Linked DNA regions of Homo sapiens: region 1 is reported to be linked to region 2. Evidence: microRNA targets listed by miRTarBase, many of them from high-throughput screens and not tested one by one. Region 2 holds a microRNA gene; the other region holds the end of a gene's coding sequence.

The links. Region 2 holds the annotated microRNA hsa-miR-320b (AAAAGCUGGGUUGAGAGGGCAA, at 2,677-2,698, opposite strand). A microRNA usually pairs through its seed, bases 2 to 8, with sites in the 3' UTR of a target mRNA and lowers its output. Matches are read on the target gene's strand: a 7mer-m8 pairs with bases 2 to 8, a 7mer-A1 pairs with bases 2 to 7 and ends in A, and an 8mer does both.
Region 1: the mRNA of ZNF507 is a reported target of hsa-miR-320b. Seed matches in the 3' UTR shown: 7mer-m8 at 2,119-2,125 and 7mer-A1 at 2,101-2,107.

Annotation. Positions count from the first base shown.
Region 1 is chr19:32,382,505-32,386,899 of GRCh38, reverse strand. ZNF507 (zinc finger protein 507) reads right to left here. Exons shown (of 7, transcript NM_001136156.2): 6 at 4,299-4,395; 7 at 1-4,183. The coding sequence ends at 3,817. Among named protein-coding and RNA genes, the nearest start is that of DPY19L3-DT, 21 kb to the left of the region's middle.
Region 2 is chr1:116,670,090-116,674,484 of GRCh38, reverse strand. It overlaps MIR320B1 (microRNA 320b-1), which reads right to left and starts at 2,739; the gene lies at 2,668-2,739.

The DNA of each region.
Region 1 (4,395 bases), not on the chromosome of region 2:
AGGAAAAGAATGAACACAACCTGTGGTTAATAGAACTTGGAGCCAAGTTTTTTTTAACAAAAAATTTATTACCAAAATACAATATTAAAGTCAATACATGACAAACTCCTGTAAAGCAAAATAAATTATTCTAACATTGTACAGTATTTCCAAAGGTAGTTAAAGAAGCACTACAGACCTTGCCTCACTGTTCTGAACAGATGAACTGCTCTCCCATGAACACAGTCCTAGAGTTTCCGCTTTAAGGCATGCAGCTTGATGTGCAGGATAATTTTACAAAATGCAAATCATCCTATTTTAATAAGATACAGTGTCAGAATTAACTGTAGTCTTTACATGTCAGTATTCCAGAAATTTTTATACTTTGGCTATAGAAGCAATGCCATAGTGTTACACAATACTTATTTCTTAAAAAAATACATGTATTCATGTTCATGAATATCAAACGCAAATTTCTATTAAATATATTTTATCGAATATTACTTAGAGCACCTTGCTGTACAATTTAAAAAGATTAAATAAGTGTCTATGAAAACTAAAAACACAATAAGTCTCAACAGAGAAGCCTGCTTGTCTTTGTCAAGCCAATTACAGCACGGGAAGGTGCAATGTAAACATGGATGCCCACCATTTACTTTGTGAGAAAAAAAACAGAAAATTATGAAGCCACCAGCAGCCACCTTCAATAGGAAGAAAGATCCAGAACAAAGGCTTCGGTCGGTGTCACAACATTGCACTATCTGGCCAAAGAACTTGGACTACCGATCAAATGGAATATTAGCATGATACTGTTGAACACTGGGACACCCGCCATATTCTGGATGATTAGAGAAAGGGAGAAAATGATAGAGCCCTGAAAAGTATTCTTTATAATGATCAGAATGCATCATCTTCCCCCCTCCCCACCTTTGCCATATGTAGTTTCTTTTCAAAGCTATTTTCACTATCACGTCTTAGTATTTTTTAAGTGTTCGGAGCAGAAAACAAATACTATGAGCTCTGTCTAATAAGAAGTCAATACCAATAAATAACATGTTATTCTATGAAGGAATTCCTACTGAATTTTTTTTTTGGGGGGGGAGGTAAACAGAGGACCTCATCTGTCACCCCGGTTGGAGTGCAATGGTGCCATCACGGCTCACTGCAAGCCTCTATCTCCCAGGCTCAAGTGATCCTCCCACCTTAACCTCCCAAGTAGCTGGTGCTACAGGCACGTGCCAACTATGCCTGGCTAATTTTTAATTTCTTGTAGAGACAGGGTCTCCCCGTGTTGCCCAGGCTGGTCTTAAACTTCTGGACTCAAGCAGTCCTCCAGCCTTGGCCTTCTAAAGTATTGGGATTACAGGTGTGAGCCACTATGCCCAGGCTACTGATTATTTTAATAGCTATCTCTTCTACAGTTAGAATTGCATAATCTTCATTATTACTTTTAGAAAACTCAATTGTTCTTGGTAGACACATTGTTAACTTAAGGCTTGCCACAAAATGATAATGGGAAGGGAAAGAACCTCCTTGATATATGCTTCCTCCTATCGGCCAGGAGAAAGCTTTTAAGGACAATTCTAAGGCCAGAATCAGATGAAACTTTAAAGGCTTTGAACTTCTGGGTTAGTTTTTTCCCCATGAGGTGGGGAAATTTTAAATCCATGATTCCAGGTGGAAAATTTAAGTAACAATCAATGGAATTAGTTTAAAGAAATAAAGGTAATTTAAAAATTCACATCATTGAAATTTTGGGGATGCTTTTCATTATTATTTTCTAAATATGATATAAAACTAAAGCCAAGGAAATTTTCTAAGACAAAATCCTTCTAAGGTTGTTGATTTTCAGAACAACAGATTTTTATAAAGAAATACTGAGTCATTGTACCAGCAATGAAAAAACTGACTTACAATATGAGTGGCAACAGTATGGGTAATAATAATGAAATCATTTTAAATGTTCTATTTGAATTTGAAATTAAAATGTTTCAATTCCGAAAAAAGGAGAAAATGAATATAAGTCCACATACAGTGGATTTGAGGAATATAGTATATATAAATCCATTTCATATTTTTAAAAACCACGTATCAGAAATGGATTAACTTTCATAAATAAATTAAAGCTACCTAAATAAAAAAGCTGCAAAGTTACAATCATTTATGTTTGTTTAAATATCACCAAAATGAGATTAGAAAGAAAGAAAAAAAAATCAGAAAATGTTGCAAGATGCCTGGCCCCACTTAAATAATTCCTAATAATAATTTTATAAATATTAATCCAATCATACCTGGACTTTAGGAACAGAATACTTCTTAAAACGTGCCTACAGCGTATCCCATTCGAAAACCTTTACAGTGTTCCAAGTTGATCGGTCACAGCCTCATCCAGGTGTTAGAAATCAATATTCAGATATTCGGAAATAGCACCGTGAGGATGGTGCACAGAAGAGCGCACCGACCTTTTCACTTGTAGGCAGAATTTACTTAAACAAAACAATGCATAAATGAGTAATCAGAACTACAAAAACAAAAACACCCTGTTTTCTTCACTCCTTGAAATAATTAAAATACAAAATGTGTAATTAATAAGATTACATCTATTTGATGGTGAGTTTTAATGCTAAAGCACTTTGTGTTGGTTTTCCATATGTCCTATCGCACTCTAACAAAATAGAATTTCCAGATAGGAAGAATCCTATAGACTTGCCAAATGCTATTTGTTATTAAAATTTTTACAAACAACCTGAATTTCTGCTATATTTTAGTCACATTTGGTTATATTCCTCTTCTGCTAAATATAACTAAATTAATATACCCCAGGAAAGAAAAGCTCAACACAGCAGTACTCATTTTCAGGAGCTTTTAAATTTCACCCCTCATCCCCTAAGGGATTTTTGGAAATAGTTCAAACTATTTCCAATGCCGGATGATCAAATGTAAATTTTCATACATTGTTTCTTTCACACACTTTCAGATAACAAGTGTGGTTTCATTTAGCAGAGTATTAGAAGGTCTACGTACTATGGAGAAAGTATGCCAAGTTCTGACAGACACTGAAAAGAACCTCTGAGAACACGGAAGACGATTTAGCATTACTACGAATTGAGATCTGGTTTGAGTCTGGTGAGAATTCACCTGTTTCGTCCTCTGCTCACAAGAAATTCATCGTAAATTTAAGACAATACTTCTTGAATGCCTATTTACAATCTAGCTTTGAATTTAGAGATCTTTCCTTTCTTTTTTAAGGAGTAAAGGAACATGTCCTAGATTGAGTATGATTAATTTCTATCAATTTAGGTATTTCAGTAGATCATTTCAAAGCCCTCTAATTATGTTTCCTTGTTGACTCTGTTGGTGACACTGAAAAAACCCCCTCCCAGAACTGCCTCCCATTTCTCACTGGAGGCCTCACAGTCTGCATTTGACAAGTGAGAAGAAAACTAAGCTCTGCTTAAGACTGTGACCCTTTTATGACTTTTAGAATAGTTCCTGAAAAGCCCTTTCTTAACTCTTGCTGGCATTTCTACACTCTAATAAGCTTTTATTAATAAATACACTCGACACTAAGAAGGGGTGACAGAGGGTTAATACAGGATTACACCTCTACTTCCTCTTTGACCCACTCCCCCTCACTCAAAATATTTAAATATCATTACTGCTTGTCCATTTGGAATTCCTTTTATTACAAGTTTGGTTCCAAAGTCACATCTGTCATTTCCTCAAAAATCACATCAACGACTTCTTCTGTGGCAGGAAGTTGTCTGACAGCGTAAAGGTGAAACTGTGGTGAAGGAATCCTCTTCTACTGCTTTCCTGCTCGAGTCATTATTCCACCTAATTTGTGTTTAGAGCTGTATTGTGGTCCTTATTCAGGATGATGTTTACAATTTCACCCTCGTGCTCTTTCATATGATCCAAGAGGTTTTCTTTGCTGGTTGATTCAAAACCACAAATACAACAGCAGAAGAGTAAAACGCAGTACTCCATGCTAGGAGGGGCCAGACTGGAGATTTTTTCTAAACTATATGAGGTATTACTTGTAGGGCTCAGTTTCTCATTCTCGTTGGTACCCAGAACTTCACTGGGAGTCTGGGACATCAGTTCTGAAGATGACACTGCATTTTCTGAACTTCCAGTGACGGGATCTGCACTCTCTTCACTGCTCTTTAATTGAGTCTTTCCAGGGGATTTCCCCAGAACTCTTAAAAACAAAACAAACACAGCACACCGTGAGGAGGCTACAATGTAGGACTAGTAGATTTAATCCTGGCTTTAATTTACATATAGCAATAAAGGGAGGGGGTAGGATGAAATACCTGCCACTTTGTGAAATCGCGTCGTTAATAGCCTTGTTTACTTGTTCGTAGTTGTAATTTTGGTCACTTGCATGTTTCCACATATGAGACTTCAAAG
Region 2 (4,395 bases):
CAGCCAGATCAGGCCAGACAGCCCTGGCGACTAGTGGGGTAACAGATGTCTCAGAAAAAACATCCCATCTACAAGGCTCCATTCTGCTGTAATATCATGGTTGTTTGGATTCTTAGAATCTCAGATATATGGTGACACACTTTTCCTTGTGCAAGGACAGACGCTCTGTGATCAAACTAACATCTTTTCATTGGAGAGGCCAAGTCAAATTCTTAGAGTCCTCCACCTGGACCACAGCATGGTTGAAAGTGGCAGCCAGCCCAGGCAGACAGCCCAGCTGCCCTGGGACGTTGAGAGAGAAAGATTGGGGGTCAGCCAATCTAATTCAGAAAAGCTACTCCAACGTGACAAGCGTCATGGCTTTCAGCCTACCCACAGGTTTGGGTTCTTTAAATTCTTTAGCAAAGGGAGGGAGGCCATACAGGGAAGAGCATGGGCCAAGAGCCAGAGCTGGATGTAAGGAGATGCAGATGCAAGGCTATTGAGTTAAGAAAAAAATCAGGATTTGCTGAGATTTTGGAAAAGACGAATGGAGAGTCATTAAATGCTCAAGGTTTGGGGCTGGGAAAGATCGGGAGCCTGTTGACCGTGGTGAGAACTAAGTTCAGAATGGAATACTGGTAGAAGAGATGAGCTCCTCTGATTCTTTTGATCTGGGGTCAAGCTATGCAGTTGAGGGAATTCTCAATCCCAATCAAAAATGGACTTGGACAGAGGGGATGGGATCATGAATCTGTGAAAATCCATCATAAAATTTTGACCTGAAAGATCCCTTTTAAAAGTCTTCTTAGACTAGTCTCAGACATATGTTCAGAAATAGGATCTTCTAAATGGGGCCTGGGAATCTGCACTTTAAATGCTTTGTGAGTAACTCATGCACAGCCAGTTTGGGACTTTCTCACTAGTCTAATCAACCTCTTTTCTTTTCTTTTTTTTCGAGACAGAGTTTCGCTCTTGTCACCCAGGCTGGAGTACAATGGCGCAATCTCGGCTCACTGCAACCTCCGCCTCCTGGGTTCAAGCGATTTTCCTGCCTCAGCCTCCCAAGTAGCTGGGATTGCAGGTGCCTGCCACCATGCTCAGCTAATTTTTTGTATTTTTAGTAGAGACAGGGTTTCACCATGTTGGCCAGGCTGGTCTCGAACTCCTGACCTCAGGTGATCCACCCGCCTCAGCCTCCCAAAGTGCTGGAATTACCGGCATGAGCCACCGTGCCTGGTCATCATCCTCATTTTACAGAAGAAACTTAGGTCCAGAGAGGTCAAAACACAGCATAAGCAGCAACTGGAAGCTAGAATTTCTGACTCCTGGTTTCCTCTCCTTAGACCATGTAAAGTACATGATTAGTGAAGAGAATAGCTAATGAACACTGAGAACTAAATACCAGGCATTTTGCTAAGTTCTTTCCATATGTCAACTTATTTAATCCTTCCAGCCTCCCTTCGAGGGCAGGTGGTATTTGTTATCCCCTTTTACAAATGAGGAACCCAGAGTAAGAGAGGTTAAGTAACTTGACTGGGGAGTTAGGTGTCAATAAGTGCAGATCTGGGACACAAGCCCAGGCGTTCTTCTTCAGATTCGCTCTTCGCCGTCATCCAAGAAAATAAGCTAACACAGCACAGGGGTTTTGTGAGGAAAGAAGAACGTTAGCTGAATACAATCTTATTTCCCCCTGTGGGATAAAGTCATCTTCGAAGCTCCATCGGGGGCGGGGGCGCAAATCCAGACCCTTCTCTAACGCTAGATGGCGCATCTCAGGTTCTGAACACCCACCTGTGGATAAAGCCTTTGGGGACTACCCACTGGCTACCCTGATCTCAAGATATCATAGTCAATTCTCTCTCTCTCTCTCTCTCTCTTTTTTTAAAGACAGATGGTGGGGGCTGGGCGCTGTGGCTCACACCTGTAATCCCAGCACTTTGGGAGGCCGAGGTGGGTGGATCACCTGAGGTCAGGAGTTCGAGACCAGCCTGACCAACACGGTGAAACCCCATCTCTACTAAAAATACAAAAAAAAATTAGCCAGGCATGGTGGTGAGTGCCTGTAATCCCAGCTATTCAGGAGGCTGAGGCAGGAGAATCACTTGAACCCGGGAGGTGGAGATTGCAGTGAGCCGAGATTGCACCACTGGACTCCAGTCTGGGTGACAGAGTGAGACTCCGTCTCAAAAAAAAAAAAAAAAAAGACAGATGGTGTCCTGTGTAAATTATTCCTAGTCTTCGGCTCTGGGGATCCTTGCCTGTGTAGGAGGGTAATCACCCAGAAGAAAGCTGGCTCTCGGGAGAATTGTTGAGTGGGACACTTTTAGCTCCAACTTGGCTGTTTTGTGAGGTAGGGAGGTTTGCTCTTTTCATTTGGCATTTTGAAGTACATTAAGTACAATTAACATCAGTTGCTTGTGAGTACACAGTATCAGCCTATCCTTAGACAAAATGCCTTGGCTTCAATCTTCTTTCAAGTGATGAAGGATAACTTGGCTAACACCCTTCATTTTTTTCCCCTTAAAACATGTAACTCTATGCCATTTGTGGTTTTATATTAGCCTTTTGGTTATAGCTATTGGTAGGTCTAGAAACCTCAAACTGATATAACCACTTGGCCATATCTTATCCACGAAAAAATTTTGTGTTGGCCCCCCCAAAGTGTTTAATTAGTTAATTAATTAGTTAATTTGTTTGCCCTCTCAACCCAGCTTTTCCTCACTCTAGGAAGAACTAGAAAGAGAGGGATTAATTTATTTTTGAAACACTAGTTTCCAATGAGCAAAATTAAGAATAATTTTTTTTTAATGTGGATTTCCTGATTCTCTTAAAAAGTAGGAAAATCAGGCAACACCACACCTTCCTTCCCAGCAGCAACACTTTGCTGAAGCTGTGCGTGCTCTTTCAGGCTGTGCTCTGGGTGCACAGGCCCCAGTACTCCCTGGCACTGTGCTTCAGCTCGGCTTCTGCAGGCTTCTGCATTTAACTCCCTGATGGACAAGATCAAGGAGTCTTCCAAAATGTCCAAAATAAACAACTGATTCCAGGCCGGTGCAGTAGAGGTTTCAAAATTCAAATGCAGAATGTTTTGAAGCAAGCTGGAATGTTCAGCCCGGGCACCAGACATTGCTGACTGGGGACTTCGGTGCACTCCTCTCCTTTGACATCTCTCCTTCCCTTAGGACTCTCTCTTTCTCTCTCTCTCTCTCTCTTTCTTTCTTTCTTTCTCTCTCTCTTTCTTTCTTTTCTTTCTTTCTCCTTCCTTCCTTCCTTCCTTCCTTCCTTCCTTCCTTCCTTCCTTCCTTCCTTCCTTCTCTCCCTCCCTCCCTTCCTTCCTTCCTTTCTTTCTCTCTGTCTTTCTTTCTGACAGAGTTTCGCTCTTGTTGCCCAGGCTGGAGCTTGTTGCCCAGGCTGGAGTGCAATGGCACGATCTTGGCTCACTGCAACCTCTTCCTCCCGGGTTCAAGAGACTCTCCTGCCTCAGCCTCCTGAGTAGCTGGGATTACAGGCATGCACCACCATGGCCGGCTAATTTTTTGTATTTTTAGTACAGACAGGGTTTCTCTATGTTGGTCAGGCTGGTCTTGAACTCCCAATCTCAGGTGATCTGCCCACCTCAGCTACCCAAAGTGCTGGGATTATAGGGGTGAGCCACTGTACCCAGCCTCCAATTCACTTCTCTGCCTGCTGATGAACTCCTGAAGGGGCCACCATCACATCACTGTTCAGGACTCATTTAATCGTTTCTATGTCTGGAGGGCAGAGGCATTCTTTTAAATTATACTTTTGTCTCCCCATCCAACACTTTGCACAGTTCTTTGCATATCGTAGATGTGGAAATTAGAAAGAATGCCATGCTGGGAATCAGCCATAACACATCTGGGTGGTGATGGAAGTCAAGGGTTGAAAGATCATCCAGAAGGATGCAAGGGGCCAAGTAGTATGAAGAGGGGCAGGTTGAGATTGAAAGAACGAGTAATAGAGAAGGGATAATTGAGTATAGGGGTTCAAGGATGAAGGCCTAGGCAGAGGCCTCAGAAAGTACAGTCTTGCACCTTGATGGGGGTACACCTTGGTGGGGGTCAGAGAGTTCCAAAGCAGGCTGAGATGCCCCTTCTGGAAGATTCCTTGACTCTTCTCTTTCTCTCCCCCTCCATATTCAGTTCTTCAGAGAATTTCATTGACTCTGCTTTCTAAATGCTTTCAGACTCCACCCATTTCCACAACCTGCATCAGCACCACCCTAGTTTAAGCTGTGATCATCTCTCACCTGCGCAATGGAAAGAACCTCCCATCCAGTGTCCCTTGTCCACCCCTACCATCTGATGCTCTATTCTTACCCAGCAGCCAGAGTGAGCCAAGCTCCTCAGGTTAGAAGGTCCTACTAGATTTGGCCTCTTTGACCTCTCTGAT